2 linked regions of the Homo sapiens genome follow. The protein of the gene in region 1 purifies or fractionates together with the protein of each later gene. This does not show direct contact. Each region holds a gene or a part of one and is shown on either strand. Other genes may lie near its edges.

Region 1 (15,852 bases):
AGAGAGAGAGAGAGAGAGAAAGAAAGAAAATAGGGACAGGGTCTTGCTATGTTGACCAGGTTGGTTGTGAACTCCTGGCCTCAAGCAGTCCTGCCTCAGCCTCCCAAAGTACAGGCGTGAGCCACTGTACTCGGCCCAGCTTTTCCTTTTAAGCTTTTCGGTAGGTCTATTCCTTTCCCCACCTGTTATCCACTGCCTCAGGAAGCTGCAAAGTTAGTCAGTTGCCTGCAATTACACCCTGATGAAAAGACTTTTCACACCAGGCAAAGGCTGAACCAAGTCAATTACAGCCAACCTTGCAAGAGGAGCCTTATCAGGGAACCACCAGACCGGTCAGATAATGACAGTTCTTTGGGCATGAGACTTGAAAGGAGCTCCAGCCTCATTCTGCTCCCTCTTGTGGCGCCAGGCTGCTGTTTTTCATCAGGAGTGCAGAATGTGAATTTTCAAGGCCACCACGGAACTGCAGAGTGTGCGATCTTAACTAGGGCAAGTGAAAATGCCACTGTTCTTACCAAGATTCTGCTGTTTTTCTTGAATAAACATTCTCCCGACTGCCCTAAGCCTCTGGCTAATTTCCAGAGTTCTGAAAAAGTTGATTCTGACCATTTTTGCCAGTTTTCTCACTGCTATTATGGAGGAGAGAATTTTTGGAGGTCCTTACTTCACGGATTTTGCTGATGGCACACCTGGAAAACTGATTTTTGTTTGTTTGTTTCTTTGAGACAGAGTCTCGCTGTGTCACCTAGGCTGGAGTGCAATGTCACGATCTTGGCTCACTGCAAGCTCCGCCTCCCAGGTTCATGCCATTCTCCTGCCTCAGCCTCCCGAGTAGCTGGGACTACAGGTGCCCGCCACCACGCCCAGCTAATGTTTTGTATTTTTTTTTTTTAGTAGAGACGGGGTTTCACTGTGTTAGCCAGGATGGTCTTGATCTCTTGACCTCGTGATCTGCCTGCCTCGGCCTCCCAAAGTGCTGGGATTACAGGCATGAGCCACCGTGCCCAGACTTTTTTTTTTTTTTTTTGAGACAGGGTCTTGCTCTGTCACCCAGGCTGGAGTACAGTGGTGTGATCTCAGCTCACTGCCACCTCCGCCTCCTGGGTTCAAGCGATCCTCCTGCCTCAGCCTCCCCAGAGGCTGGTGCATGCCACCACGCCTGGCTAATTTTTGTATTTTTAATAGAAACAGAGTTTTGTCATGTTGGCCAGGCTGTTCTCAAACTCCTGGCCTCAAGTGATCCACCCACCTTGACCTCCCAAAGTGCTGGGATTACAGGCGTGAGCCACCAAGCCCAGCCCAAACTGCTTTTTTTTTTTTTTAATCTCCAGTGAGATCAGAAGTCACCTGCCTGGGTTGGCTCTGAATGTCCCTACCTGCTCTGTTCCCCTGAACCTGGAGTCGCCAGACACCCAACCCATGACTACACCCAGGCCAGTCTTGACCCTGGGCGTAAAAAGCATTCCCCACTCCTCTCTGCTCTGTATGTTCTTATACTTTTGCTGCTTCTTCGGGAGTGGGAGCCAGGATGGCTGAGAAACTCCTCCTCTGAAGCTGTCTGTAGTCAGCTGCTTCCTAAGGCCCCGATCTCCCTCTCAGACCTGCTGCCTCCTGCCCAGGGGAGCTTTCAGATTATGGAATAGACCCGGGCTCCCATAAACGTCCCTGCCAAACTATCTGGGTGCCAGAGCTCTAAAAGACTGAGGCAGAGCCACTTTGCCATGATTAATTCAAGAGCCTTGACTCAGTCATTATTCATAACCTCTTTCAGTGGTTTTTCATGCCAGCTCATACCAGCCCAGACTCTGGTGCTCCGCTGCTCCAAGAAGGGCCCCTCTAGGGCCATGTGGGACCCAGTGGGACCTACTCTTGAGCACTGCTTTGCCAAAGTAGAACAGGCTTATCTTTTATTTTTATTTATTTTTATTTTTTGTTTTGTTTTTGAGACAGCCTTGCTTTGTTGCCCAGGCTGGAGTGCAATGGCATGATCTCAGCTCACTGCAACATCTGCCTCCCAGGTGCGAGTGATTCTCATGCCTCAGCCTCCTGAGAAGCTGGGATTACAGGTGCCTGCCACCACGCCCAGCTAATTTTTTTGTGTTTTTAGTAAAGATGGGGTTTCATCATGTTGGCCAGGCTGGTCTTGAACTCCTGACCACAAGTGATCCACCTGCCTCAGCCTCCCAAAGTGCTGGGATTACAGGTGTGAGCCACCAGGCCTGGCCTATTTTTATTTTTTGAGACAGGGTCTTGCTCTGTCACCCAGGCTGGGGTGTAGTGGCACGATCATGGCTCACTGCAGCCTCAACCTCCCAGGCTCAAGCAATTCTCCCACCTCAGCCTCCCGAGTAGCAGGCAGCCTCCCGAGTAACAGCCTCCCGAGTAGCATGTGCCACCATGCCCAGCTAGGTTTTAAATTTTTTGTAGAGACGGGGTCTCACTATGTTGCCCAAGCTGCTCTTGGATTCCTGGGCTCAAGCAATCCTTTTGCCTCGGCCTCCTAATGCGCTAGGATTACAAGCATGAGCCACTGTGCTTGGCTGAGCAGGCGTATCTAAGAAAACATATTTCTGGGCCAGCTGAGTTCAGGGAAAATGCCTTGAACTTGGAGAAATACTAAGTCAAAGCTTACGAGCTAAGTACTTTTGTTATTTTACAAAACGGCCTTTCCTAGAAACAGCTCTGAGTGACAGGGTGAGCCCTCATTGTGCATTCATGGGAAAATGGAAACGAAATCTAACAGGACAAAGGACAGATAACCTTTCCATCTTTCTTGGCAAAGCACTAATAACAGATCACAGTAAAGGCTAAAGCTCCTCTGTGAGTTTCTTTCCAACAGAGGCAGCAGAGGTACAAAGGATAAGAGGAAATGGGCTAATGTAGCAGAGAGATTCACCTAAATGGAGTCTTTCCACGTGCTTTTCCCTACGTTAGGGACTCGGCTCTCCTCTCGCCTGGCTCCCTCCATCCTGAGGCTCATCTTCCATCTCAGCTACCTGTCACTTCCTCCAGGAGGCCTTCCCTGACCACCCTCATGTGTTCCCCTGCCACTATGCCTGTCCTATCCCCAGAGGCTTGCCCAGGGCCAAGTGTTGGGTAGGGAGTCAATGCCTGGGAGGGGCTCAAGGAACTGAATGAAGCTTGCACTCTGGGAGTCTCTCCAGAGAGTCTGTAGAGGCTGGTAGGAAACTCAGGCTGATTTGAACCAAGCCCTGATTCTAGAAAACCACATACCTGCCAAACCAGAAGCAGCAGCCCCCTCTCTCCCCTGCTCCCTGCCCTAAGGAAGGAAGCCTGTGCCCCCTTCCACTCCTTCTTCATCTCCTTCCTCACCAGCCTGCTGGGACACCCGAAAGGGCAGCCTGGTGGCGGAGCTATCCACCATTGAGTCCAGCCACCGAGACCCTGTGTATGGCACCATCTGGCTGCAGTCGAAGACGGGCACCGAGTGCTTCTCAGCTTCCACGGATGGGCAGGTACCCACCAGCCAGACACTGGAGAGAGGAGGGAAGGGAGGGGCAGTAACTGTTCCCTGGTTCCCCATCAGAACCCCTGGGGACATTTCCTTTAACACATTTTATTTTGAGATGGAGTTTCACTCTTGTTGCCCAGGCTGGAGTGCAATGGCACGATCTTGGTTCACTGCAACCTCTGCCTCCCGGGTTCAAGCAATTCTCCTGCCTCAGCCTCCCAAGTAGCTGGGATTACAGGCGCCTGCCACTATGCCTGGTTAATTTTTTATTTTTAGTAGAGATGGTGCTTCACTATGTTGGCCAGGCTGGTCTCGAACTCTGACCTCAGGTGATCCACCCGCCTTGGCCTCCCAAAGTGGTGGGATTACAGGCATGAGCCACTGCGCCCAGCCTAACACTTTATTTTTAAGTTGAGTAGTGATAATACATGCCCACGGAACAGAATCTAAAGGGTGCAAAAAAGAAAATGCCTTCCTCTCACCTCTGCCTGCACCTCCTCCCCTCCCTCCCTCTCTTATGTCTGCCTTCAGAGCTAGTCTCTGCGTATGCAAGGAAACACACCTCTCTCTTCTTTACTCTTTCTTTTTGCACACTTCACACACTATTCTGTACTCGATGTTTTCCATTGTGTGTACCTTGGAGATAGTTTCATATTTCATACACCGCTGCCCCATGCCTATTAATAACTGCATCATGTGGGTGTACCATAATTTATATATGGATTCTAATATTTTGTTGCTACCCCCCAAAAAATACAGCAAAGAGCATCTTTATACACAGATTGTTGCACACATGCGGGGATATATCTACAGCAGACATTGCTGGCAGTGGGACTTCTAGGTCGGAGCACACATGCATTTTTAACATTGCCGGATATTGCCTTATTGTGGGGAGTCTTGGCATATACCGATTCTTGGCCTTGCACCTGGAGGTTTTGATTCAGTAGGTCGAGGGCGAGGCCTCAGCATCTGGGTTGTATGAAGCTTGCCGGCGACTCTGATGATCAGCCAGGTGTGGGAACTGTGGACAGAACAGCAATCCTCAAAGTGTATTTGCTCCCACGAATTGCCGGGAGCTCCATCCTTTGTGGCCCAGTGGCTGACCCCAGGACGGTGGGGTGAGGGCGGAGAAGGCAAAAGCCAGGGGAAATACAGGGCCTCGAAGTCTCACTGTCGCCCCTCCTCCCACCAGGTCATGTGGTGGGACATCCGAAAGATGAGCGAGCCCACTGAAGTTGTGATCTTGGACATCACCAAGAAGGAACAGTTGGAAAATGCCTTGGGGGCCATCTCCCTGGAGTTCGAATCTACTTTGGTGAGTGTCCCTTGCTGTCCCTTCCCCGACTTGCATTGACAGGGCAGCCAGGGCTAAAGACAGGCCATTGCTAGGATATCAGGTGCTCGTGGAACCCAGCACCAGCCCAGGGAGGCCACCCTCACTGCAGCCATCCTAGACGTGTGTGGCCTTTACAACAACTTTCCAGCAGGGGGCAGCAGAGCTTCTCGAAGAAGGACACCATAGTCATCATGGCACCAAGTCATCTTTTGGCCAGTGGCCCAGCTGAACACAGAGGGCAATCTTTTGACAGAACAATTCCAGAAAAGCCCTGTTTTGTGGGGAAGGTCACGCCCAGGACCAACATCGGGAGGCCTGGACTCCAACCCAGGTCCTGGCCCTGCCTGGCACGGGGTCCCTAGGCTGGTCACCTGCCTTCCTCTGGGGAAGGAAGAGGTACTGGAGAGGAAAATGAGGTCAAAGCAGGCTCCTTGGAAAACCAGAGCACAAGCATGGTCTCGGTGTTCAGTCACTGAGAATGACAAAGAAATATCAAAGTTCAGGTCGGGCAGGGTGGCTCACGCCTGTAATCCCAGCACTTTGGGAGGCCAAGAATTTAAGACCAGCCTGGGTACATAATGAGACCCCCCCCACCGCCCGCCCAGTCTTTACCAAGAAAGAAAGAAAGAAAGAGAGGGAGAGAGAGGGAAAGAAAAGGAAAGAAGGAAGGAAAGAAGGAAGGAAGGAAGGAAGGAAGGAAGGAAGGAAGGAAGGAAGGAAAGAAGGAAGGAAGGAAGGAAGGAAGGAAGGAAGGAAGGAAGGAAGGAAGGAAGGAAAGAAGGAAGGAAGGAAGGAAGGAAGGAAGGAAGGAAGGAAGGAAGGAAAGAAGGAAGGAAAGAAGGAAGGAAGGAAGGAAGGAAGGAAGGAAGGAAGGAAGGAAAGAAGGAAGGAAGGAAGGAAGGAAGGAAGGAAGGAAGGAAGGAAGGAAGGAAAGAAAAAGAAGAAAAATATCAATGTGAGGCAAGGCGCCGTGGCTCACACCTGTAATCCCAGCACTTTGGGAGGCTGAGGTGGCAGGATCACTTGAGCCCAGCAGTTCAAGACCAGCCTGGACAACATAGCAAGACACTGTCCCTACATAAGAAAAGAAAAAAAGGGCCAGGCACGGTGGCTCACACCTGTAATCCCAGCACTTTGGGAGGCCAAGGCGGGCGGATCACCTGAGGTTGGGAGTTCGAGGCCAGCCTGACCAATATGGAGAAACCCCATCTCTACTAAAAATACAAAATTAGCTGGGCGTGGAGGCGCACGCCTGTAATCCCAGCTACTCGGGAGGCTGAGGCAGGAGAATTGCTTGAACCTGGGAGGCGGGGGTTGCGGTGAGCCAAGATCGCATCATTGCACTCCAGCCTGGACGACAAGAGCGAAACTCCATCTCAAAAAAAAAACAAAGAAAAGAAAAACAGGAAATATCAGTTTGAGCATAGTGCAAATGTGTTAGAGGAGGGAAGCTTCCTAGAAGCAGTAAAGGAAGACTTCCTCGCTAGAGTAAGAAGACAACTTTCCCTTGTTGTTGGCTTTTGGTTTGGGCTGAGTCTTGGTTTACGTCTTAGTGCAGCCCAGGCCTGGTTCCCCCTTGGGGGTGTCACTTGTTTGCTTCGGGGTCATGGGCCATCATTCCTAGGGCTTTGGGAGGCCCTGGCCTCGAACATACCTGGGCAACCCTAGCTCAAGGCTGAGAGATGAATGTTGATGGAAGGAGGAGACAATTCCACTGACCCCCTCCCCAGAGGACAAGGCACTGGGCAGGGAGGTTGGGGTGGCGAGGGCTCAGGAAAACATTCTGTCCCAGAGGCAAGGCTTTCTAGGCCAAGTGCTAGACATGCAGCCACATCACTACTAGGGCCATCTCCTCCATGCCTGGCCCTTGCAGGGTGCACACTGTGTGTTGGACACTTGTGGCTGCCTGATTTAATAAGCTTGTGCAGTCGCCTACAACCATCTCGTGGGGTAATGTTATTATCCGTACTTGCCAGACACACACGATGAGTCTTCATGAGATTAGGTTGTGAGTCCTAGTACCTGGTAAAGCTGGGACTCAAACCCAGGGCTCCAACTCTGAGGCCCAGAGTGTCCACCTGCAGCCCACCATGAAGTCTGAGGCTAGAGGCACGATGGGCCACTCAGATCTGGGTGGCCTTTCTCTCTGGCTCACTGACGGGCGGCGTGCAGTCGGCTTGAATACTTTCTTCTCTGGACCTCTCAAGCTTGGTCTTTCCACTTGCCCTTGACGCCCAACTTGAAGCCCAGGTTTTTGTTTTGTTTTGTTGAGACATCGTTTTGCTCTGTTGCCCATGCTGGAGTGCAGTTGTGTAATCTCAGCTTACTGCAACATCCACCTCCTGGGCTCAAGCCTCAGCCTCTTGAGCAGCTGGGACCACAGGCACATGCCACCAAGCCAGGCTGATTTTTTTTTTTTTTTTGAGACAGAGTCTCACTCTTGCCCAGGCTGGAGTGCAGTGACATGATCTTGGCTCGCTGCAACCTCTGCCTCCCAGGTTCAAGTGATTCTCGTGCCTCAACCACCACACCTGGCCATGTTCTGGGTATTTTCTAGAGATTTTATATTTATCATTTTAGTAATTTTCTGGTAGAAGAAAACTGCATAATAAAACAATATGTTTTTTAAAAAAATAAAAATAAAAAAGCTGGGGGGCCAGGTGCAGTGGCTCAGGTCTGTAATCCCAGCACTTTGGGAAGCCGATGTGTGCAGATCACTTGAGCTTAGGAGTTTGAGACCAGTCTGGACAACATAGGGAGACTCCATCTCTACAAAAATACAAAAATTAGCTGACCCTGGTGGTGTGTGCTTGTGGTCCCTACGTGGGAGGCTGAGGTGGGAGTACTGCTTGAGCCCAGAAGGTCAAGGATGCAGTGAGCTGAGATCGCACTGCTGCACTCCAGCCTGGGCAATGGAGCCAGAACCTGTCTCGAGAAATAAATAAATAAACTAGGAGTTCTTTTTTCTTTTCTTTTCTTTTTTCTTTTTCTTTTTTCTTTTTTTTTTTTTTTTTTTTTTTTTTGAGGTAGGGCCTTGCTCTGTAGGCCAGGCTGGAGTGCAGTGGCATGATCTCGGCTCACTGCAACCTCTGCCTAAAACCTGGGAGTTCTATAGGGGCAGGTTCACCAGCTGCAGAGGACATCTGAGCCCGTTGACAAAGGCCCTCCCCTCAGTGTGCCCCTCCCCTACCTCACTCAGCTGTTCTTTCCATTTGGAATGCTGAGGACACAGCACCATTGTAGGCTCAGGCCCTGCTGGTGGAGGTTGTTCAGTCTAGCCCAGAAGTTAAGACAGAACAGTAAACAAGGAAGGGCATTGCGTGATGGAGGGGGTCATGCTCAGAGACGCGAGGGGAGCACTGGACCAGGAGTCAGGAGACCAGCCTTTGTGCATTCAGTCCGCAGTGAAGTGAATAACTACTAAAGCTCAGTTCGTGGGCGATGGACCCATGTCAGACAAGCTCGTGCCCCTCAAAGAGCTCACCCACCAGTGGTAGGGGGACGAGTTACATCACCGACTGCCAGGTAACTTCCTGAGTGCTGGTTGGTCACCTGCTCTGAGTTCTCAGGGACACCAGCCTGGACAATGCTATGACAAATGTCACTGTCTTGCCAGGGAAGGCTCTGCCCATCCCATGAGTGATCTGGGTGGGCCACCCTGCATCCCCTCCCTGGGTCTTCTTTACTCTCTCTGTAAACAAACATTCAGGATCTTTATGGCCAAATGCATCGAGGACACAGTGGTGCTCTGCAGAGGGGGCTAGTGACCTGACAACCCTCCAGGACTGGAGGAGCCAGGGAGGGCTTCATTCAGCACAGGCTCCTTGAGCAGCTTCCAAAAAGATGGGGTCTGAGGAGCCCGGGAAGAGTGGGGACTGCTCTCCAGGAGGGGCCACAGCCCTTGCCAAGGCTTGATCTGAGGGCCTTTCTAGCGCCTGCAGACCCCCCAAGCAAGCTCCTGTCCATGCCCGCTAATCCCAGAATTGATGGTTCGTGGAGTCTTCCCCTCCTGTGTCACTCCTTCCACAGCCCACCAAGTTCATGGTGGGGACCGAGCAGGGCATCGTCATCTCCTGCAACCGCAAGGCCAAGACGTCAGCTGAAAAGATTGTGTGCACCTTCCCGGGCCATCATGGCCCCATCTACGCCCTCCAGAGAAACCCCTTCTACCCGAAGAACTTCCTGACGGTTGGCGACTGGACAGCCCGCATTTGGTCTGAAGACAGCCGGGAATCGTCCATCATGTGGACCAAGTAAGAGGCGATGCTGGGGACAGGAGGGGATGCAGGAGACAGGAGGGGATGGAGGGAGCCCAGCTGGGCCCCGGAGAGTCCCGAGCCTCCATATGTAAAATGGAGAAAAACCTTTCCACAAACACCCGAGCTCGTGTTAGCAAGTGACTTGCTCCAGCCACTCCACAAAGTGATAAGCTTCAAACACTCAGTTACTAAAAATAATGGCCATGGCTTAATTTTATTTCCTTTTTTTTTTTTTTTTTTTTTTGAGACAGTCTCGCTTAGTTCCCCAGACTGAGTGCAGTGGCGTGATCTCGGCTCACTGCAGCCTCCACCTCCCAGGTTCAAGAGACTCTCCTGCCTCAGCCTCCTGAGTAGCTGGGACTACAAGCACCTGCCACCATGCCCAACTAATTTTTGTATTTTTAGTAGAGATGGGATTTTGCCACGTTGGCCAGGCTGGTCTTGAACTCCTGACCTCAGGTGATCTGCCCACCTCGGCCTCCCAAAGCGTTGGGATTACAGGTGTGAGCCACCGCGTCTGGCTGGCTTAATTTTCATAATCCTCAAACTATCCCCAGGAGGAGGCAGCATTGCTCTTCTCTTCATCTCATTTTTCATGTTAGGGAACTGGGCTACAGAAAGGCCAAGCCACTTGCTCCTGCTCTCCCAGCTAGTGAGGAGCCGAGATTGGGTGTGAACCAAGGAAGCTTGGCTGGGAAATGCGGGTGCCTTGGCACAATTCAGCAGTGAGGCATAGCCTGTCTTGCTCAGTGCCACTCCTCTGAGGAGAGCAACAGACAGGGAGCTTGAGACAGAGCTATGAGCACAATGGTTAGACCAGAGAAGCTTAGACTATCACATCCCCCTCCATTCTTCTTAGGGCCCATTTACCTTGTCTAAAAGTGCCCTTTCTCCTCCTCCCCTTCATCTCCTAAATTAGGTAATAAGCCCGAATTCTAACCACCCCCTTGAGTCATTCACCACCGAGCACTGCCATGTGTATTGTGCATTGCATGTATAAATAATTACTTTTTTCTCTTGCTAAAAAAAACATCCTGGGGTTCCTTTCCTGCCCACAGAACCACAGACTCCTGCAACGTCAAAGCCACCAGCAACCCTAATGAGCATCTTTGGTTCCAGTGCTTCCCAAATCTGGTTGCATCAGAATATCTTGGGAGGAGTTTTTGTTTGTTTGTTAAAATGCTTTTGAGATGGAGTCTTACTCTGTCACCCAGGCTGAAGTGCAATGGCGAGATCTCGGCTCACTGCAACCTCCACCTCCCGAGTTCATGCGATTCTCCTGCCTTATCCTCCTGAGTAGCTGGGATTACAGGCGCACGCCAGCACACCCAGCTAATTTTTGTATTTTTAGTATAGACAGAGTTTCCCCATGTTGGCCAGGCTGGTCTCAAACTCCTGACCTCAGGTGATTCGCCTGCCTCAGCCTCCCGAAGGGCTGGGATTACAGGCATGAGCCACCGTGCCTGGTGGAGGAGTGATTTTTTTAAAATCCAGATTCTCAGCCCCAACCCTGGGGGTACTAACATAGAATCTTGGGCTTAGCCCAGGAATGGGTTTGCTAAGGAGCAACCCCAGGCTTGTGACTCAGCCAGTCCTTGCTTTGGGAGCAGAAACCTGGTTCGATGTCCTCATTCTACAGGGGTGGGAACGCTGGCTGACAAGGGCAGTGCATTGTTCCAGGCCTCATAGCAAGTAGGGGGTTCCCAGTAGATGTGAAGCCCTTTACAGGCTTTAGGAGCCTTCCCAATGTCTTCAGGTCCTGCAGGCTGCCAGGGCTGTGTGAAAGGAGCAGGGTGTCGAGCACAGCACCCATAGGCCTTTCGCAGGGCTGGTTCCTAGAGGGACTTGGTGGACCTGTGTCGTAGAACCTGGGTCTCCCTTGTCCTCCTCCTGCATAAGGTTAAACAAATTTAGCAAATAAGAATATTTGACCCTGGGCCAGGTGCAGTGGGCTAATGCCTGTAATCCCAGCACTTTGGGAGGCTGAGGCGGGAGGATCACTTGAGGTCAGGAGTTCAAGACGAGCCTGGCCAATATGGTGAATCCCCATCTCTAATAAAAATACAAAAAATCAGCTGGGCTTGGTGGCTAACGCCTGTAATCCCAGCACTTTGGGAGGCCGAGGCGGGTGGATCACCTGAGATCAGGAGTTCAAGACCAGCCGAGATTGCGCCACTGCACTCCAGCCTGGGCGACAGAGTGAGACTCCGTCTCAAAAAAAAATAATATTTGGCACTTAGTTAAATCTGAATTTTAAAAAAAAAAACTATTTTTTTTTTAGTATAAGTATGTCCCATGCAATATTTGGTATATACTTATACTAAAAATTATTCATTGTCCAAAAATCTCCAGATGTTTCTTTTTTTGGGGGGATGAAGTCTCTTTGTTGCCCAGGCTGGAGTGCAGTGGCACGATCTTGGCTCACTACAACCTTCACCTCCTGGGTTCAAGCAATTCTTCTGCCTCAGCCTCCTGAGTAGCTGGGATTACAGGCGCCCACCAACACCCCTGGATAATTTTTTTATTTTTAGTAGAGGCAGGGTTCTGCCATGTTGGCCAGGCTGATCTCAAACTCCTGACCTCAGGTGATCCACCATTCTCGGCCTCCCAAAGTCCTGGGATGACAGGCATGAGCCACCGCGCCCGGCCCAGATCCTTTCTTTAGTCTTGATCATTTCTCCCACTGTGGTCTGGCTGTCAACACACTAGGTTTGCAAAGGTGACTGGGAAGTGTAGTCTGCCTTGCTCACCAGGGGCCCAGCTACAACTATATTGCAATGGAGGAAGGGAGAGGAGGTCTGGGTGAAAATCTGAAGGCTGCACTGTGTGTGTGTCCCTTTTAAAAAAATGTTCCGTCTTCACTGAAGAAACTCTTGAAAACCCAGATGAAACCAAGTAGGAAGTGACACTCTCCTTATCTCAGCGGTAGCAGCTTTTCTGGGCATGTCCTTCCTCTGACTCCCATCCGTGAGTCCCAGGGCTGGGACCAGGTCCAGCAACACGTGCCTGCTGCCTGGAGTTAGCAGCAGAGAAATGCCAGTGGCCAGCCCACGGGAAGGACTGTGCCCAGAGCCCTTTCTTTATTTTATTTGAGACAGGGTCTCACTACGTTGCCCAGGCTGGAGTACAGTGGCACAAACATGGCTCACTGCAGCCTCGACCTCCTGGGCTCAAGCGATCCTCCCATCTCAGCCTCCCGAGGAGCTGGGACCACAGGTGCTCACCACCACACCCGGCTAATTTTTTTATTTTTTGTAGAAACAGGGTCTTTCCATGTTGTCCAGGCTGGTCTCAAAATCCTGGCTTCAAGCGATCTTCCTGCCTTGGCCTCCCAAAGTGCTGGGATTACAGGCACATGACCAGCCCAGAGCCCTTTAAAGAACAGCCTGTCAGACACCTGAGGTCAAGAGTTTGAGAGCAGCCTGGCCAACATGGTGAAACCCCATCTCTAGCAAAAATAAAATATTAGCTGGGTGTGGTGACGGGCGCCAGTAATCCCAGTTACTCGGGAGGCTGAGACAGGAGAATTGCTTGAACCCAGGAGGCAGAGATTGCAGTGAGCCGACATCGTACCACTGCACTCCAGCCTGGGCAACAGAGCAAGAGTGTCTCAAAAAAAAAAAAAAAAAAAGCAACCTGTGAGCTGTGGATGAGTGAGGTCAGCACAGCTAGAAGTCAGACACAAGGAAGAACTTCCTACCTAGCAAGACTCTGAGATCCTGGAGCCCAGAAGGGACCAAGTGAGCCAAGCTGTGGCTCAGAAGCCTCTGTCCCTCCAACCATGATGTGGTCTACCTCCCACAGGTACCACATGGCTTACCTCACTGATGCTGCCTGGAGCCCCGTGAGGCCGACCGTTTTCTTTACCACCAGGATGGACGGAACCCTGGATATCTGGGACTTCATGTTCGAGCAGTGCGATCCCACCCTCAGCTTGAAGGTCACGCGCATGTCCCTCCTTGTGCATCCAGGTCCTCAGGGAGCCAGGTCCCGGCGTGGGTGTGAGTGTGGGGTGCTGTGAGCACGTGTGCAGTGTGTGGCCAGGTGTGTTTGGGCCTCTGTGGGGGAGCCGTGTGCAGGCTGACTGCAGCGATTGCTTTTGAGCGTGTGCTCCTACAAAGGTTAAGGGGCCTGGGGGATTTGGCATCCTGGTAGCACAACAGAACCACCTGGGGGAAATTTAAAAAGAAACAAAAGCAGGTACCCGGCATCTCCTACCCACAGGCCGATTCCTTCAGAGCCCCTGGGGTTTGGCTGCTGGACCTTCCCCTTCATGTCAGGGTGGCCAGAGCTGAGCCCCACTGGCTGGGGCCACGGAAGGGTGGGGGCATTGGGGAACCACAGGGTGACTGTGAGGCGGAACTGAAGGGGTGGGGCGGGAGATGAGGCAGGGAAGCCAGGAGCCTTGACAACCAGTCTCCGAGTTTGAACTTCATCCTGTGGGCAGAGGCGTCCTGAGGATGTTTGAATAGGGCCAAGTGGCTGAGCCTCCCCAGGGGCCAGTTAATCAGACACACATAACTTTGCTCCTCTCTCCTCTACCTGGGTCTGCCCGGCCCCTTCAATAGGTGTGTGACGAGGCCCTCTTCTGCCTCCGGGTGCAGGACAATGGGTGTCTCATCGCCTGCGGCTCCCAGCTGGGGACAACCACCCTGCTGGAGGTCTCGCCTGGGCTCTCTACCCTCCAGAGGAATGAGAAGAACGTAGCCTCTTCCGTAAGCACCGGGTGCCTGGGGAAAATCCCTCCAGCACGTCCCGACCTGGCCCCACAGCAGAGCAGGCTAGTCAGACAAATAGATGGCCCCGCCCTCCCACCCCCAGAACATAGGTGCACATTTTGGGGGAAGCAGTGTGGGCTCCATAAATAGGTGTTGGTGTGTCCATTTGCCTTTGCTCAACTGCTGGGTAGCTAAGTGGCCTTCAGTAAGTCACGTCACTCTCCAGGATTCAGTTTTTTACCTGTAAATCAAAGAGGTTCGACTTGGTCAGTTTGTCTAGTTTCAAATAACACTTTTTTTTTTTTGTGGAAACTTTCCAATGAAGGCTTAGTATTGTATTATATTATATTGTATTTTAATTTAATTATTTTTATTTATTTATTTATTTTTGAGACAAAGTCACGCTCTGTTGCCCAGGCTGGAGTGCAATGGTGAGATCTAGGCTCACTGCAATCTCTGCTTCCCAGGTTCAAGTGATTCTCCTGCCTCAGCCTCCTGAGTACCTGGGATTACAAGTGCATACCACCACGCCCAGCTAATTTTTGTATTTTTAATAGAGACAGGATCTCACCATACTGGCCAGGCTGGTCTTGAACTCTTGACCTTAAGATGATCTGCCCACCCTGGCCTCCGAAAGTGCTGGGATTATAGGCGTGAGCCACCGTGCCCAGCCTAATTATTTTATTTATTTTTATTTTATCAGTTTATTTTATTTTACTTCATTTTGAGACAGGGTCTTGCTTTGTTGCCCAGGCTGGAGTGCAGTGGCACAATCATGGCCCACTGCAGCCTCTACCTCCCAGGCTGAATCGGTCCTCCCACCTCAGCCTCCTGAGTTGCTGGGACCACAGGCATGCACCACCATGCCTGGCTCATTTTTTAATTTTTGTAGAGACAGGGTCTCCTTATGTTGCCCAGGCTGGTCTGAAACTCCAGGGCTCAAGCAATCCTTCCACCTCAGCCTCCCAAACTGCTGGGATTATAGGCATGAGCCACCACGCCCAGCCTGAAGACTTAGTAGAATGCTAATAGGGAAGCCAGATAGAAGGGGACTTGAAGAGGGGGACTGAGATCCATTCCTACATCCTTTCCCCAGTGGACAGCCCTGCAGGCAACCCCCCAGAACCATGGGGAACACTGTGGAACTGAAAACCCCTAGTGCTAGGGCCGGGTGTGGTGGCTCACGCCTGTAATCCCAGCACTTTGGGAGGCCGAGGCGGGCAGATCACCTGAGGTCGGGAGTTCGAGACCAGCCTGACCAACATGAAGAAACCTCGTCTCTACTAAAAATAGAAAATTAGCCAGGCATGGCGTCACATGCCTGTAATCCCAGCTCCTTGAGAGGCTGAGGCAGGAGAATTGCTTGAACGTGGGAAGCAGAGGTTGTGGTGAGCCGAGATCGTGCCATTGCATTCCAGCCTGGGCAACAAGAGTGAAACTCTGTCTCAAAAACAAAACAAAACAAAAAAGGAAAACCCCTAGTGCTGAGGCCTGGAGAGCCTCCTGGCTCTGCCTGAGACTGGGATCTCACCATTGAGCTGGTCCTTGTTGGGCCAAAGCCGCCATATTTCATAGCTCCAAAGGGCGCTCTTCTGCCTGTGGTTCTGGAACTCCATGCTCCTTGGCATTGAGTAACTCAGTGTCCCTGCTGCAGCCTTCCAACCCCAATATTCAGCCCTCCTTCCTTGACACCAGCCCTGGGTACAGACCTCTACAGTACAGGGACTGTATGGAGAGCAAGGAGAGCTCAGCAGAAGCCCCACCTGGCCCCAGCACTGGAGTCGCTTGCCATCCTGCCCTCTCCCCACCGGGCTCTCTCTGTCCCTGGGTGCCCAGATGTTTGAGCGTGAGACCCGGCGAGAGAAGATCCTGGAGGCCAGGCACCGGGAGATGCGGCTGAAGGAGAAGGGTAAGGCGGAGGGCAGGGATGAGGAGCAGACCGATGAGGAGCTGGCCGTAGACCTGGAGGCGCTGGTCAGCAAGGCCGAGGAGGAGTTCTTCGACATCATCTTCGCAGAGCTGAAGAAGAAGGAGGCAGACGCCATAAAGCTGACGCCAGTGCCTGTA
Region 2 (16,315 bases), on another chromosome or scaffold:
GAAAGGAAAAAGAAAAGAAAAGAGAAAAGAAAATAACAATGTGGCCAGGCATCGTGGCTCATGCCTGCAATCCCAGAACTTTGCGGGGCCAAAAGAGGAGGATCACTTGAGTCCAGGAGTTCAAGACCCATCTGGGCAACAGAGCAAGACCCTGTCTCTACAAAAAAATACAAAAATTAGCCAGGCATGGTGGTGCACACCTGTAGTCCCAGCTATTCAGGAGGCTAAGGTGGCAGGATCACCTGAACACAAGAGTTCGAGGCTGCAGTGAGCTATGATTGCGCCACTGCACTCCAGCCTGGGCAACAGAGTGAGACCTTGCCTCAAAACCACACACCCACACACACAATGTTCTCTAATATTCAAGTTTTGCATTGTTCACTATGTAGGTAAGGGATGCAAAATTTCACGGGAAATTTTGCCACAAACCTCAATAGTCTTCTCTACACATGGCTCCTGGGTGTGGCAGGCACTCTCAGATGGCCACAGGGTCCCCACCTCCCAGTGCTCATGGCTTGTGGGGTACCCTCCCCTTGAGTGTGTGTAGGTCCTGAGGCTCACCCCTGCCCGGTGGGGTACAGCAAAGGTGAGGAGTGAGCATCACATATGATTCATGGCAACATCTGCCTTGCCAGGGGACTCTCTCCCTTGCTGGCTTTGAGGAAGCCAGCTGCCCTTTCATCAGTGGCTGTAAGAGGACCCCGTGGCCAGGAGCTGAGGGTGGCCTCCAGTCCACAGCTAAGAAAGTGAATGCTGGAAACAACCAAGTGCACTTGGGAACGGTCCCTTCCTCAGTCGAGCCTCAGATAAGAATGCAGCCCCAGCATGGATTGCAGCCTTCAGAGGACCCAGTAAAGCCATGCCTGGACTCCTGACCCACAGACAGCCGGCCCCAGGCCTTCACTGGGGGAAGCTTTATAGATACACACACACACACACACACACACACACACACACACACACATACACATATATACATACATATATATGTATGTATGTATATATATATATATATCTCCTCCTGCTTCAGCCTTTTTTTTTTTTTCCAGAGTCTTGCTCTGTCACCCAGGATGGAGTGCAGTGGCACAATCTCAGCTCACTGCAACCTCTGGCTCCTGGGTTCAAGCAATTCTCCTGCCTCAGCCTCCCAAGTAGCTGGGATTACAGGTGGGCACCACCACTTCCAGCAAATTTTTGTATTTTTAGTAGAGACGGGGTTTGACCATGTTGGCCAGGCTGGTCTCGAACTCCTGACCTCAGGTGATCCACCCGCCTCAGCCTCTTAAAGTGCTGGGATTATAGACGTGAGCCACTGCACCTGACCTGACCCATTTTTAAGTCTAGAAAATGTGCCTTCATTATCCCTTCAAATACCTCCTACTTCCCACTTTTCTTCTGCCTTCCTGGGACATCTATTCAACAGATATTAGCATTGTTGCTTCTGTTCTCCATATCCCTGACCTTTTCTCTTACATACTTCTTGTTCCTGTTTCATTTTGGTAACATACAGAACTTCATCTCTTTTATAGGCTTTTTTTTTTTTTTTTTTTTTTTGATGAGATAAGGTCTCGCTCTGTCATCCAGGCTGGAGTGCGGTGGCATGATCATAGCTCTTGGCAGCCTCAACCTTCCTGGCCCAAGTGATCCTCCCACCCCAGCCTCCTGAGTAGCTGGGATTACAGGTGCACCCCATCACACCCAGCTTATTATTTTTTCTTTTTCTTTTGAGAAGGAGTCTTGCTCTGTCACCAGGCTGGAGTGCAGTGGCCTGATCTCAGCTCCCTGCAACCTCCGCCTCCCAGGCTTAAGCAATTCTCCTGTCTCAGCCTCCCGAGTAGGTGGGATTACAGGTGCCTGCCACCACACCCGACTAATTTTTGTATTTTTAGTAGAGACGCGGTTTCACCCTCTTGGCCAGGCTGGTCTCAAACTCCTGAGCTCAAGTGATCCACCCGCCTTAGCCTCCCAAAGTGCTGGGATTACAGGCATGAGCCATTGTGCCCGGCCATAATTTTGTATTCTTTTTGTAGAGATGGGGGTCTCACTATGTTGCCCAGGCTGGTCTCAAGCTCTTGGGCTCAAGCAATCCTCCTGCCTCAGCCTCCCAAGTACCTGGGACTACAGGTGTGAGTCACTGCATCCAGCTAAGTTTTAATATTTCTTTGTAGCGACGAGGTGTCACTATTTGGCCCAGGTGGACGTGAATGCCTGGCCTCAAGTGATTCTCCCGTCTCAGCATCCCAAGGCCTGTTTCATTTGTTGTAACGTGTTGGCCCTCCTGTCCTACTGCCCTGCTTCTGTCATCCAGTTTATAGCTATTCCGTCTGGCAGTGTGTCTGGGGAAAGAAGAGAGGTCATGACCCCTCTGGGTATTCATGCAGTTGCCACCACAATCCAGGTACTATACTGTACCAGCTCCACAAGGCTCCCTCCTAGTGACCCTTAATAATCACGCCACCCCATCCCTAGCCCCAGGAGATCAGTCATCTGTTCCCCATCTCTGTTACTTTATGGATGTCATACAAACAAAACCACAAAATATCCCTTTGGGATTGGTTTTCATCTGCATAATCTTTTAGAGGTTCGTCCAAGTTGCGTGCAGCAATTCTTTCTGAGTAGAATAACTGTCTAATCTCCATGTGTGAAGATTTTCCTGCTATCTGCTGTTGATGGTAAGTGTGATTCCATTATTGTCAGAGAAGGCGTTCTGTGCAAGTCTTTTTTTTTTTTTTTTTTTTTTTGAGAGGGAGTTTCACTCTTGTTGCCCAGGCTGGAGTGCAGTGGCACAATCTTGGCTCACTTCAACCTCCGCCTCCTGGGTTCAAGTGATTCTCCTGCCTCAGCCTCCAGAGTAGCTGGGATTACAGGTGCGTGCCACCACACCCAGCTAATTTTTTGCATTTTTAGTAAAGACAGGATTTCTCCATGTTGGCCAGGCTGGTCTTGAACTCCTGACCTCAGGTGATCCGCCTGCCTCGGCCTCCCAAAGTGCTGGGATAACAGGTGTGAGCCACCGCGCCCAGCCCTCTGTGCAAGTCTTCTACATTTGCTAAGGTTTGCCTTATGGCCCAGGATATGGTATATCTTGGTCTCTGTTCTGAGGACACTAGAAAATAATGTGAATTCTGCGATTGTTGAGTGGTGTGTTCTGCAAACGTCAATTAGATCCTGTTGGTTGATGGTGTTGCTCTGCTATACCTTAATGACTATCTGCCTAGTTATTCTAGCAGCTGCTGAGTTGGGGGCTGAAGTCGTCAACTGCAACAGCAGGCTTGTCTCTTCCTCCTTTCAGCTCTATCAGTTTCTGCTTTATACATGTTGAAGGTCTGTTGTTTGCTGTACACACATTTGGGATTGCTGTTATCTTCCCAGTGGGTTCTTTTATCATTATGTAATGTCCCTCTTTTTCCCAAGGAATTTCAACAGCCACTCCCGCTTTTTAAAATTTATGTTTACATGATACTCTTTTGCCATCCTTTTACTTTCAATGTGCCTATGTTATTATGTTTGAAGTGAGCTTCAGCATATAGTAGACATCATACAGTTGGGTCATGTTTTGTATCCACGTGGCGAACCTCTGTCTTCTAATTGGTGTGTTTAGGCCATTTACATTTAAATTAGTGATATATTAGGGCTTACGCTTGCCATTTAATCATCTGTTCTCTCATGCTTTACTGTGGGATACCTGAATGTTTTTTAGAATTCCACGTTATGTTTTTGAGGATATCACCATATACATATGCAACCCATCGGTCTATCGGCATCTATGATTTTCCACCTTGAGTGAGTGGACAAACCTTCCTTCCACTTAAGTCCCTAACCCTTCTCACTGTTAAATACCTAGCTGTAGATATTTCCTCCACATACATCACACACCACATGAGTGTTGTAATTTTTGCTTCGATCATCAAATATGATTAAAGAAACTCATGAGGTGAAAGATGGTCAGTGACATTGACTTCTATTTTTATCCAGTCCATTGTCTCAACTTTCTGGAGGCCCCAGCCCTCTTCTGTTAAAATTATCTTTCTGGGCCGGGCACGGTGGCTCACGCCTGTAATCCCAGCACTTTGGGGGGCATTGAGGCAGGTGGATCACCTGAAGTCAGGAGTTCAAGACCAGCCTGACCAACACGGAGAAACTCTGTCTCTACTAAAAATAAAAAAATACTCGGGCATGGTGGCACATGCCTGTAATCCCAGTTACTCGAGAGGCTGAGGCAGGAGAATTGCTTGAACCTGGGAGGCAGAGGTTGCAGTGAGCTGAGATCATACCATTGCACTCCAGCCTGGGCAACAAGAGCGAAATTCCGTCTCAAAAAAAAAAAAAATTACCTTTCTGTTTACAGGGTATCCTTTATGCATTCCTTAAAGGTAGGTCTGCTAGCAATAAATTCTATTAGTTTGCCTGTCTGAGAACATCTTTACTCCTCTTCCATTCCTGAAGGATAGTTTTGCTGGGTAGAGGACTCACAGTCAACAGCTCTTTCCCCTTTACAGTTGAACAATGGCAGGTCACTTCTTTCTGGCCTTTTGTGGTTTTGGTTAAGAAATCTGCCTTCATTCAAACTGGTGTTCCTCTCTAGGCAAGGCATTATTTCTCTCTGTCAGTTAGTACTTTTCCTCCTTCTGTCTTTAGTTTCCAGGAGTTTAATTGTGATGTGTCTTAGTATGGGGTTTTTGGAGGGCTTGTCCTATGAAGCCTTGTTGAGCTTCTGGAATCTGTGGATTTATGTTTTTCATTGAATTGGGGGAGTTTTCAGCCTTTTTTTTTTTTTTTTTTTTTTGAGATGGAGTCTTGCTCTGTCACCCAGGCTGGAGTGCGGTGGCATGATATTGGCTCACTACAACCTCCACCTCCTGGGTTCAGGCAATTCTCGTGCCTCAGCCTCCCCGAGTAGCTGGGATTACAGGTACCCACCACCACACCCAGCTAATTTTTGTATTTTTAGTAGAGATGGGGTTTCACCATGTTGTCCAGGCTGGTTTCAAACTCCTGACCTCAGGTGATCTGCCCGCCTCGGCCTCACAAAGTGCTGGGATGACAGGCGTAAGCCACTGCACCTGGCTAATTTTTCTATTTTTAGTAGAGATGGGGTTTCACCATGTTATCCAGGCTGGTTTCAAACTCCTGACCACAGGTGATCTGCCTGCCTTGGCCTCACAAAGTGCTGGGATGACAGGCGTGAGCCACCGCGCCTGGCTAATTTTTGTATTTTTAGTAGAGATGGGGTTTCACCATGTTGTCCAGGCTGGTTTCAAACTCCTGACCTCAGGTGATCTGCCCGCCTTGGCCTCACAAAGTGCTGGGATGACAGGCGTGAGCCACCGCGCCCAGCTGGTTCTTATGACTCTGCTTTAAAATTCTTGGCAGATGATTCCAACATGTGACCTATCTTGGAATTTACATCCGTTACCTTACCATGTTCAGGTTGTGGCTTTCCTTGTTCTTGGTATGACAAGTGATCTCCAGATGTATCCTGGACATTTGGGTTACGATGTTTGCAGACTCCTTGTCCTACTCTATTCCACCAGGCAGTTGCTCTGTTCAGGTCCAGGGTGTAGATTGCAGCCTGTTTTTGTGGTCTGTCATTCCAACAGCAGTTTCGTCTTCAGAGCCCTGGCACTGCCCTCCTCGTCTGCTTTATTCTTCTGGCTCTCCTGGGACTGCTGCTCATTTCCCATGGGTGCTGCCTGCAGGGGTGAAAGGTACCTCCCTGGGCCGCCTGGTGTCACTGGGCTACCTTTTGCTGTGTCAGGACAGAACATGCTCGTTCTGGGTCTCTTTGTGCTAAGAGAGGAAGGGCAGATTTCAGGCTCCTCTGACACTACCTGTGCAGTGCAGACTGTCCACTCGAACCCCAGTTGCACAGCACAGGTTAATGCACCTGCAGCAGCTTTAAAATCGGCCCTGAAAGCAGACTGTGGGGTGAAGGTGGCAGCTACCCTCTAGGTCTCTGTTGGGCGTCCCCTTTCCCAGGGCTTTGGCCAGAGAGAGGAGGCTTTCCTTGGAGAATTTCTGTCTGTGCCTGTTGGCTGTTCTGGGCCACAGGCTTCCCTGGGGACTAGTGCAGGAACACATGAGAGAAAAAGAAAACCCAGGGGACCCACCACCTTGCTATTCCTCCAGTCCAGAGGTCTCCAGCCCGTCTGTCAACTCTCAAGCTCCTTTCCTCGTCGCCTGCTATGTGCAGGGTATTTTGTTGTATTTCAATGGGAGGAGCAAGGAAAAGTGAAGTCCCACCACCGTAATTCAAGCGCTTATTCTTTCTCGTCTTCAGCACTCACTGCCACAGCCTTCCCAGGGCTCCCGACCAATCCGTTCAACGGAAGCCAAAGGGGTCCTTGAAAAATGCAGACTCGATCTTGCCAATGCTCCCACCTTGAAATCCTCAGTCTGCCATGTTTTAGGACAGAGGCCCCCATGGCCTGGCCCCACCCATCTGCTCACTCCCTGCCTGCTCCCCTGTGACCAGGGTCAGCCTCCCTCCCTGTTTGCTACCTGAGGCTGCCGTAACAAAGCACACCAGGCTGGGCAGCTGAATGAAACAAATTTGATTTCTCAAGATCAGGGTACGGGCTGGCTCCTCTTGAGGTCTCTCTTCATGCTCATACTGCATTCTCCCTGTATGCACGTCTATCTCCAAAATTTCTCCTTTTATGAGGACAGCAGTCATATTGGATGAGTGCCCAACCTCATGACCTCATCTCACCTCAATCACGTCTGCAAAGACCTTGTCTCCAAACAGGATCACTTCCTGAACTATGGGGGTTAGGACTTCAGCATATGAATTTTGGGGAGACGCCATTCAGCCCGTAACACTCCCATGAGGCCTTTGCTCATGCTATTTCCTCTCTCTCCAACACTCCCCGTCTCCCACCTCCGCCCTTTCACCTGGCTATGTGACATGGTTTGGCTGTGTCCCCACCCAAATCTCATCTTGAATTGTAGCTCCCACAATTCCCACGTGTTGTGGGAAGGACCCAGTGGGAGGTAACTGAATAATGGGGGCAGGTCTTTCCTGTGCTGTTCCTATGATGGTGAATAAGTCTCACGAGATCTGACGGTTTTATAAGGGGGAGTTTCCCTGCACAGGCTCTCTCATTTTCTCTTTGCCTGCTGCCATCATGTAAGATGTGACTTGCTCCTTCCCGCCTTCGGCCATCATTGTGAGGCCTCCCCAGCCATGTGGAACTGTGAGTCCAGTAAACCTTTCCCTGTATAAGTTACCCAGTCTCGGCCATGTCTTTATTAGCAGCGTGAAAATGGACTAATACACTGTGTTTACTTATTCTTCATATTTCACCTCTGCTACCATTTGTTCAGGGAAGCCTTAAAAGTCTAGTTCAACATCCCTTGACACTCATTCTCTCAGGACCACCACGGTTAAACACATACTAATTTATCCTTCCATTAAGGGCTATCTCATCCTGCAAGACCCTAAGATCTGGGAGAGCAGGGACCATGGCCAGTTTCTACATCATTGTCATCCTGTCCCACATGTTGCAGACAGTGCCTGGTCAAACAAATGCCTGTTGGAGGAAACAATGAATGAAGGTTACTGAATATGCTACATAACAACTTTTCAGAAGTACTGATGGGCCGGGCGTGGTGGCTCACGCCTGTAATCCCAGCACTCTGGGAGGCTGAGGCGGGCGGATCACGAGGTCAGGACATCGAGACCATCCTGGCTAACACAGTGAAACCCCGTCTCTACTAAAAATACAAAAAATTAGCTGGGCGTGGTCGTGGGCACCTGCAGTCCCAGCTACTTGGGAGGCTGAGGCAGGAGAATGGCATGAACCTGGGAGGCAGAGTCTGCAGTGAGCGGAGATCGCGCCACTGCACTCCAGGCTGGGCGACAGAGCAAGATTCCATCTCAAAAAAAAAAAAAAAAGACGTACCGACAAACACCACCATTTTGCAACACGAAGATCAACAACAAAAAAGAAGGTCAAACTTGAAGTTCTGTCCTAAAATTACACACATTCTGCCTTTAGAAAACTCAGTGCATGGTCACAGATGAGAAGTGCCTGGCTAACCAGACTTGGGGACTCCTGGTTTGCAGTGAGTGCTGTCAAACTCGCGTTCTAGGCTGGGCTCACAGCAACTCCGACTCCAAGCTGTTTAGGCGCCTCTGTCTCCACTCAAGTCCACAGTCAAGGTCACTACTGTGAAACACTGTCTTGCTTTTAATTTCCAAGCTGCCTTGTTATTTCTTGGGAGTAGGCCAAGCTAACTTTAGGAGGAACTTAGTTTATAGTTTAACTTTGAAACAAAGATGATAACAGCCCTTTCCTGAAGCCAACCTCCTTCTTGCCTGGGGACCAGAATGCTTTTGTAAGACTAACACATGAGCCACAAGATTAGAAATTGTGGTTTGAGTCATGCAGCTAGAGGCCACAAGATTCCAAACCTCCCCAGTTGCTCCTTAGGATAACACCACTATCATCAACTCTAAGATTGGTGCTCAAGATATTTTTCAGGCTCTGCATTCTGATGCACCAGGTGCCACCACCCACACCACTAATCTGGCTCAACCAGTTCTGTGATCCCACCCAGGAACAGAAGACAGCAAGAGAATCAACTTTGACTCTCCATGGTTTCATCTCCAACCCGACCAATAAGCACTGCCCTCTCCCTGGCCCCCTACCTGCCTAATTATCCTTAGATGACCCATCTCAGGATTTTCAGAACCTGGTTTGAGCAATAAAGCTCCAGTGTCCTTTAGCCAGTTTCTGCATGCAGCCAGTTTCTGCATGCAGCCAGTTTCTGCATGCATTAAACTCTCTATTGCAATTCCCCTGTCTTGATAAATTGGCTCTACCTGGGCAGCGAGTAAGGCGAACCTATTGGGCGGCTACGCCTGAGATCTAATGACAGGCTGCACGTGAAGCCCAGACCAGGCACCTGTCTTACACCACAGGGGGATCCAGTCCACAGAACCAGCGTCCTTCCCTCCTGGAACGGACCTTCCCAAAGCCAGAGGGGCTCTAGGCGGCTCAAACAGGGGCTTCCCGGCTACCCTGGTCCCAGGCGGGACCACTCAGGTTCCTTCTCCAAGCCCCCTAGGCTGCAGGGCAGGCTTCCCTAGGGGCAGGCCCAGGCCTATAGCCCGGGACCCGCATCCCGGGCGAGCTGCACCCTCCCGAGACCTTCCCCATCTGTACAATGGGGACAGGACAAGGCCCAGCAGGCAGGCTGGCGGGGGTTCCGGCGACAGAGGGGGACAGCGGGCGAGCACGACAAGAGCACAGGCCCACGTGCGCACCGGCGGGGAGGAAGTAGCCCGGCGCCCCGCCCGCAGCGCGGACCGGAAGTGCTGCCGTAATCTGCGCTGAGAGTCGCGAAAGCGCTGTTCCCCTTAGTGACCGGCGACGCGGGCAAGATGGCGGCGCTGGGGGTGGCGGAGGCCGTGGCGGCCCCACACCCGGCTGAGGGGGCCGAGACGGCTGAGGCGGTGGAGCTGAGCCGCGCCCTGAGCCGCCTGCTGCCGGGGCTGGAGGCCGACAGCAAGCCGGGCCGGCGGCGCGCCTTGGAGGCCCTGCGGCGCGCGCTGGAGGAGCCAGGCCCTGCCGCCGACCCCACCGCTTTCCAGGGCCCCTGGGCGCGCCTACTGCTGCCGCGCTTGCTGCGCTGCCTGAGCGACCCCGCCGAGGGCTGCCGCGCGCTGGCAGTGCACCTGCTGGATCTGGGCCTGCGCCGCGCCGCGCGGCCCCGCGATGCCCTGCCGCGCCTGCTGCCCGCGCTCGCCGCGCGCTTGGCCGGCCCCGTGCCCGCGCGCCGCCCGCCCGAGGCCTGTGAGGAGCTGCGCCTGGCGCTTGTGCAGCTGCTGGGCCTGGCCGTGGACCTGTGCGGCGCCGCGCTCGCGCCCCACCTGGACGACGCTCTGCGCGCGCTGCGCTGCTCCCTGCTCGACCCCTTCGCCGCCGTGCGCCGCGAGAGCTGCAGCTGCGCCGCCGCCCTGGCGCAGGCCACGCCCGGTGAGCACCCCGGGCCCCGCTCCCACACGCCACCCCACACTCTCACCCCCACCTCCACCTCCGCGGCCCCTCTCACAACCCCCGCGGCTCGGCCCCGCCCCCCTCCACGCCCGCACCCCCCAACATCCCGGACCCCCCATGCGCCGCTTCCCCCACCCGCCTGCCCCAAAGCACCCCGCCCGGCCCCCTCCTCCCACCACCACTGCTTCCCCTGCCTCACGTCCCGCCACCAACGCGCCCTTCAGCTGCTCCCTTGTCCTCTACCCCCATGTACCTGTTTCCTGCGCTGCCACGTGCTCCTTGCCCCGTGACCCCTGTTCCTGCTTGGCCCTCACTCACCTCACTCCCCTGTCCCCTTGCTCCCCGCCTCCACCCTCCACGCCCCAAGCCCCGCCCCCCACCTGCCTGCTCCCTGTGCCCCCTCCACCTGCCTATCCTGTGCCATCCTCCTCCTTGCACGCCGCCCTCCCGCGACCCTCACCTCCCACCCTCCTCCCTGCCTGAGCCCCCTCCACCCCACCCGGGCCCACGAGCCAGCGCTTCTGTCCAGATACCTGGAAACCACCGCAGAAATTCCTGTTAGGCGGTTTGGGGTGGGGTGTGCCCTGATAGCTGCCCCCTTTCCTTCCCTCGGGGGCTTGCAGGACTTGCACCTGGTTGAGGGCACGCGCTTTGAGACTCTGCTCTGGTCATTTCACTTTCTGTCCCATTCATCCTACTCCCCTGCCTTTCCGCTCTGGCTTGGACCACTGTCCTAAGTGGAAGGAGGCCGCTTCTCCCCTCCACTTTATAACGTTCCCCATCTTTTTTAGAGCTCTGATCTGATCCGGTCGTTCCCTTTCCTTAGCTGGCCATTCCTGCAGGGTCTTGCCCTTTCCCTCCCCTGGCTGGGATGTGGAATGATAGCAGGCGCCTGCTTCCTGCTGGCGGGAAGGCTTTCCGAAGGAGGGAACACTGATGCTATAAATCCGTGGGCGGTAGGGAGCAGGAAAGCAGTGAGGGATCTGGCCAGCTCAGGCCGTCCCAGTGATGTCCCAGTGATGGTCTGAATGTAGTGGGAAGTGCAGGGGGTGTCAATAGAAGTGATAGACCCGAGTTCAGGTTGTTAAAAGATCACTGCAGCTGCGTGGAGAATAGATTCCAGAAGTAGAGGAAGAGCTGGACTTGGGGAAATGCCGAGATTTCCACGTTGGTTAACTTTGGATTTCACATGGTCCAGAACTCCTGTGGAGCTTGGGGAAGAACCTTGGGCTGGATGGACATGGCCATTGAGAATTCCTGGCATTTAATGTATTTCTTCTTCATCCTCAACCACTTCCCTACCCAGTCTGTACATCAGCCCCACGAGCTCCCTCCCTGGACCGTAGGTTCCACAGGACAGCACTGTGCCCATCTGTGCCCCAGCCCCAAGCGCAGCCTGCTGGGGTATGTGCTCACTGGTTGCTGTGGGGTGAGGGACTGTGCCTCTGCCTGGAGCATCCCCTCATCTCCAGCACCTCTGGCCTTCCTCTCCCCTGGGTGGGGGGCCTCACCTCTGGTCTCGGTCACACTGGGCAACGGCAGAGAGGTTGAGGCGCTCACCCAAAGTCTCACTGGAATAGCCGTTTCCCAGACGGGCCCCAAGTAGTGCAGAGCTGAGGCAAGAGGCGGCCTGGATGCCAGAGACCCTTTGGTTCTGACTTTTTTTTTTTTTTTTTTTGAGACAGGGTTTCACTCTGTCTCCCAGGCTGGAGTGCAGTGGGGCGATCTCAGCTCACTGCAACCTCCGCCTCCTGAGTTCAAGCGATTCTCCTGCCTCAGCCTCCCAAGTAGCTGGGATTACAGGCGCCTGCCACCTCTTGTTCTGACTTTCTGCGGGGACTTTACAAATAGGAAGTGCAGTGGCTTTGCCTGGAGTGGTGCTGGCCCAGCTTCCTGGAGGAGCCTGGGGTCTCGTCTCAGGTGGGGCTGGGAGTGTGGCCTCGCCTCTGTCTTCTGGGCTCGGCTTCTTTCCTCTGGCCAGTGTCCCCGTCAGGCCTCCACCTTGGCTTCAGCAGGTCCAGGCTCTCTGGTCTTCAGCCACAATGGGTTTGCACCCCCAGCCTTTCCCCGCTGGTCCTCCTAAGCCTCTGGGTTGCACAGGTGTCATCAGGGTGGGACGCTTGTCCCTGAGCCTCTTCCTGTGCCGGGCGGTACAGAGCTCTCCTTGGCAGCCTGGATTGTGTACTGTTCATGCAGCAAGGACCTGGCGTAGGAGAGGAAGGGAGGTGAGGAACTCATAGGCAGGCAGCCGTCCTCTGGAAGCCCACAGAGCTGGGCGAGGCGTGTGGGAGCAGCTCTGGTAACTGGGGGCCTCCCTGTCCCTCAGACCACTTCCACATGCAGTCGGAGTCTCTGATCGGGCCCCTGATGCAGACCATCTCCCACCAGCACTGGAAGGTCCGTGTGGCCGCCATTGAAGCCACAGGCGCAGTGATCCATTTTGGCAACGGGAAGTCCGTGGACGACGTGCTTTCCCATTTTGCTCAGCGACTGTTTGATGACGTCCCGCAGGTAACTGGTGTTTCTCCTGGACAGTCTGTTCCTCTCTCCAACACAGGCGGGCTGACGTGCTGTTTTTAACTAACTCACTTGTTCTTTTTTCAGAGTGCTGTATGCACCAAATGTCCTTTCATTATTCCTAGTCACAGGACGTTCCTGTTCACATCTTGGAAAAACTAGAAGAGAGCTGAACTGTTTTAATGTTTGATGTTATGAATTCCAAGGATGTTAGAAAGGATGACTTGTGTAGTTATTGTCTCTTAGGCACAGTGTGCACTTCAGCAGTTGCAGAAGGTTCCTTAGTGCTCCCATCCATCAAGACGCACTTTCCCGAAAAGCCACCATGGTTGGTGGACCTGGACTGGGAGAAGAGTGGAGTCGGGGTTGGTTTGTTGGGGATAATTATGTCGTTGGGCTTTGGAACCCACCAAGAGACGGGCAGGCAGGCAGGCAGGAGTCCTACAGATGGGGCTGAGTGTTGGCTTTACTGCTGGCAGAATCTGGCCTGGAGGGCATGTCTTGGATCTGAGGCCCCAGTGACTTGCTAAAATGCTACACACTGTGGCCACCGGGGAAGCTGAGTGACCTCTGATCTTTCTGTCTCTGAGTTACCTGTCATCGTAGTCAGACATGTGATCTTTTGTGTCTGGCCTCTTCACTGTGCATGGTTCCAGGTTTCAGCCTTGAAGAGGTAGGTTTCCTGATGAGAAATGGCTTGAAGGTGGTGAGTTGAAGAGTCACTCGGGGTATTCTGGGGCCAGGATGGAAGCCCTGACTCGCTCCCTCGTCTGTGCTGCTGGGGTCCACCCGTAGGGCCGGCTCCAGGTGTGACATAGCACCTGCTCAGGACACCCCTGCTTTGCCTCCATGGCCAGGCTTCATTCTCCGGCTCTCTCCCTCCAGCAGCAGAGTGGCTGCCTAGGGGCTGTGCGCAGAGACACAGGGGGACCCTTTCCCACCAGGAGCCTTTGTTCACCCCCCTTGGTCTCATCAGGCCAGCGGAAGTTGAGTCACCATGTACGCTGGCCGGCCCCTCCTGGAGCTGGCGTGGGTTCGGCACCAGGCAGCACAGAGGGCCCCTGAGGACATCAGGCTCTGCCCAGTGGGGAGAAAGTGGGCAGAGTGCGGGGTCAGTGTCCATGCTGCCCGGCACTTGCAGCAGGCACTTCTGGCACTGGCTAAATATTTGGGCTGCGGAGGGCAGTTCAAGGGGCCAGGGCAAGAACAGAGCCCAGCAAGAAGTGCAGGCGGCCGGCTGGTTTTTCTCTCCCACCTTCCTTAAGCCTGAGGCAGAGCATGGCCCACAAGGAAAGTGGAGTCTGTGTCATGGGCCAAGTCTTACTCCTCAAAACAGTGTGATGACTCTGTATGGAGAGCTCTGTGTGAATACTGAAGCTCCATAGCTGATAGCTGTCGGTGTAAGCCTACTGTCACTGTCTAAAAATAACCATCACTGTCTAAAAATACCGTCACTGTCTAAAAATACCATCACTGTATCGATAGCTGTCTGTAAATACTGGAACTCTGTGGAGCACGCTCTGTAAATACTGGAACTCTATTGCTAGCTGTAAACGGTGTAACTCAGTATAACTATACCGTAACTCTAAAAATACCATAACTATGTGTCGACAGCTGCCTATAAATGCTATAACTGTATTGGTAGCTATGTATAAGCAGCCTACTCTGTATCAATAGCTGTCTGTTAGAAAGCTGACATCACATTGTTGATCTAAAGCAAGCTTGTCCAACCTGCGGCCCGTGGGCCACATGCAGCCCGGGACGGCTTTGAATGCTGCCCAACACCAATTCATAAACTTTCTTAAAATGTTACGAGATTGTTTTTGTGATTTTTTTTTTTCTTTTAGCTCGTCAGCTATCATTAGTGTTAGTGTTATTTTATGTGTGGCCCAAGACAATTCTTCCAGCATGGCCCGTTTCTTCCCAATGGGGTTTGCGTCCTATTAGAGACCCTGCACGGCCCTTCACGTGAGTTTCGTGTGGAGTCACGGTGCTGCCCCTTTTACTCTGATCAGCCCTGCGACCCCGTCCTGGAGCTCCATGTGGGCTCCTTGCAGACACCTCCACCCCCTCAACAACCCAGGGACTGGTGCCCTGGGACCCCATCCTCTCTGCACAGAAGGTCCTGACTGCCTTCTGACTCGTAGGAAACCTTCCAGCAGCCTGCTAGACTCGGCTTAAATCACTGAACTTCACTGGAAGGGCCTGGAAATAACTTCATCTCCTCCTTACAAGGCTCAGAGGCCTCAGAGCTCACTCAGGTAGCACAGCCAGGTGAGCCTCAGAGCAAGGTCAGGACACAGGCGGTCTAGCCGCCCTGGAGCCTTAGGCCCCGGGATGGTGTCTGAAGTTGTGGAAAGGGGGTGTCCCAGTGCGGCAGGGGCTAATGCATCTCCCCACGCTCACATGACTGCAGCTCCGAGCCCAGGACACTGACCACACCCAGAACCCCGGCGAGGCAGGCAGGACGGACGTATGGCCGTGCAGTTGTGAAGCAGGCCTTGAACAAACTGCCCTGTGCCGCCCTCAGGTGGGTGACTCATGGACTTCGCCCTGCAGGGGTGCCCTGGTTGTCGCCAGGCCTGCAGTCGGCAGCTGCTCAGCTTTGCTGCAGTTTTCCTGCTCGATGTGTGCTGCTGGTGAGGCCACCAGGCCTGTTCTTGTCAAGAGAGACCTTCCGGGAGCAACAGATGTTACAGGAGAGACTGGGGATGCATGGACAGCTTTTCAGAGATGAGTGTTTGTCACGTTCCTGCCAAGTACCTGTTTGCCATTTGTATGCCTTCTTTTGAGAAATGTCTATTCAGATCTGTCCATTTTTAAATCGCGTTATTAGATTTTTTTCTATTGAGTTTGAGCTCCTTATGGATTCTGGTTGTCAGTCCCTTGTCAGATGGGTATTTGTGCAGCTGTTTGCTCCCATCCTGTGGGTTGTCTCCTCACTATTGATTGTTTTATTTGCTGTGCAGAAGCTTTTTAACTTGATGTGATCCCATTTGCCCAGGCCATGTCCCAGAGAGTTTCCCCAATGTTTTCTTTTAGTGGTTTCATAGTTTGAGGTCTTAGATTGAGGTCTTTAATCTATTTTGATTTGATTTTTGTACATGGTGAGAGATAGGGGTCCAGTTTCATTTTTCTGCATATGGAGTTCCAGTTTTCCCAGCACCATTTATTGAAGAAACTGTCCTCTCCCCAAGATATGTCCTTGGCACCTTTGTCAAAATAAGTTCACTGTAAATGTATGGATTTAATTTCTGGCTTCTCTATTCTGTTCCATTGGTCTGTGTGTCTGTTTTTATGCCAGTGCCAAGCTGTTCTGGTCGCTGTAGCTCTGTAGTATAAATTGAAGTCAGGTAATGTGATCCCTCCAGTTTTTTGTTTGTTTTTGTCTTGTTTTGTTTTTTGCTCAGGATGGCTTTGGCTATTCAACGTCTTTCGAGGTTCCATATAAATTTAGGATTATTTTTTCTATTTCTGTGAAGAATGTCATTGGTATTTTGATAGGGATTGCGTTGAGTCTGTAAATTGCTTTGGGTAGTATGGACATTTTGGGTAGTATGGACAATATTGATTCTTCCAGTCCATGGAGTATGTTACCATTTTTTGTGTGTGTCCTCTTCAGTTTTCTCATGTCAGTGGTTTATAGTTTTCTTTCTTTTTTTTGAGACAGTCTCGCTCTGTCATCCAGGGTGGAGTGCAGTGGTGCGATCTCTGCTTACTGCAAGCTCCGCCTCCCAGGTTCACGCCATTCTCCTTCCTCAGCCTCCCGAGTAGCTGGGACTACAGGTGCCTGC

The links.
Region 2: the proteins of DNAI2 (region 1) and DNAAF5 purify together in Homo sapiens (affinity purification with western blotting; 2 studies listed by BioGRID and IntAct, with this or other methods). This does not show direct contact.

What each region holds. Positions count from the first base shown.
Region 1 is NC_000017.11:74,296,382-74,312,233, forward strand, and holds part of DNAI2 (dynein axonemal intermediate chain 2), read left to right. Parts: intron 1-3,336; coding exon 3,337-3,476; intron 3,477-4,664; coding exon 4,665-4,787; intron 4,788-8,837; coding exon 8,838-9,061; intron 9,062-12,871; coding exon 12,872-13,007; intron 13,008-13,635; coding exon 13,636-13,782; intron 13,783-13,875; exon of another isoform or gene 13,876-14,026; intron 14,027-15,316; exon of another isoform or gene 15,317-15,621; coding exon 15,622-15,849; intron 15,850-15,852. UniProt on the Homo sapiens protein: Part of the dynein complex of respiratory cilia.
Region 2 is NC_000007.14:717,333-733,647, forward strand, and holds the start of DNAAF5 (dynein axonemal assembly factor 5), read left to right. Parts: upstream 1-9,366; 5' UTR 9,367-9,388; coding exon 9,389-9,983; intron 9,984-10,257; exon of another isoform or gene 10,258-10,344; intron 10,345-10,537; exon of another isoform or gene 10,538-11,602; intron 11,603-12,330; coding exon 12,331-12,515; intron 12,516-16,315. UniProt on the Homo sapiens protein: Cytoplasmic protein involved in the delivery of the dynein machinery to the motile cilium.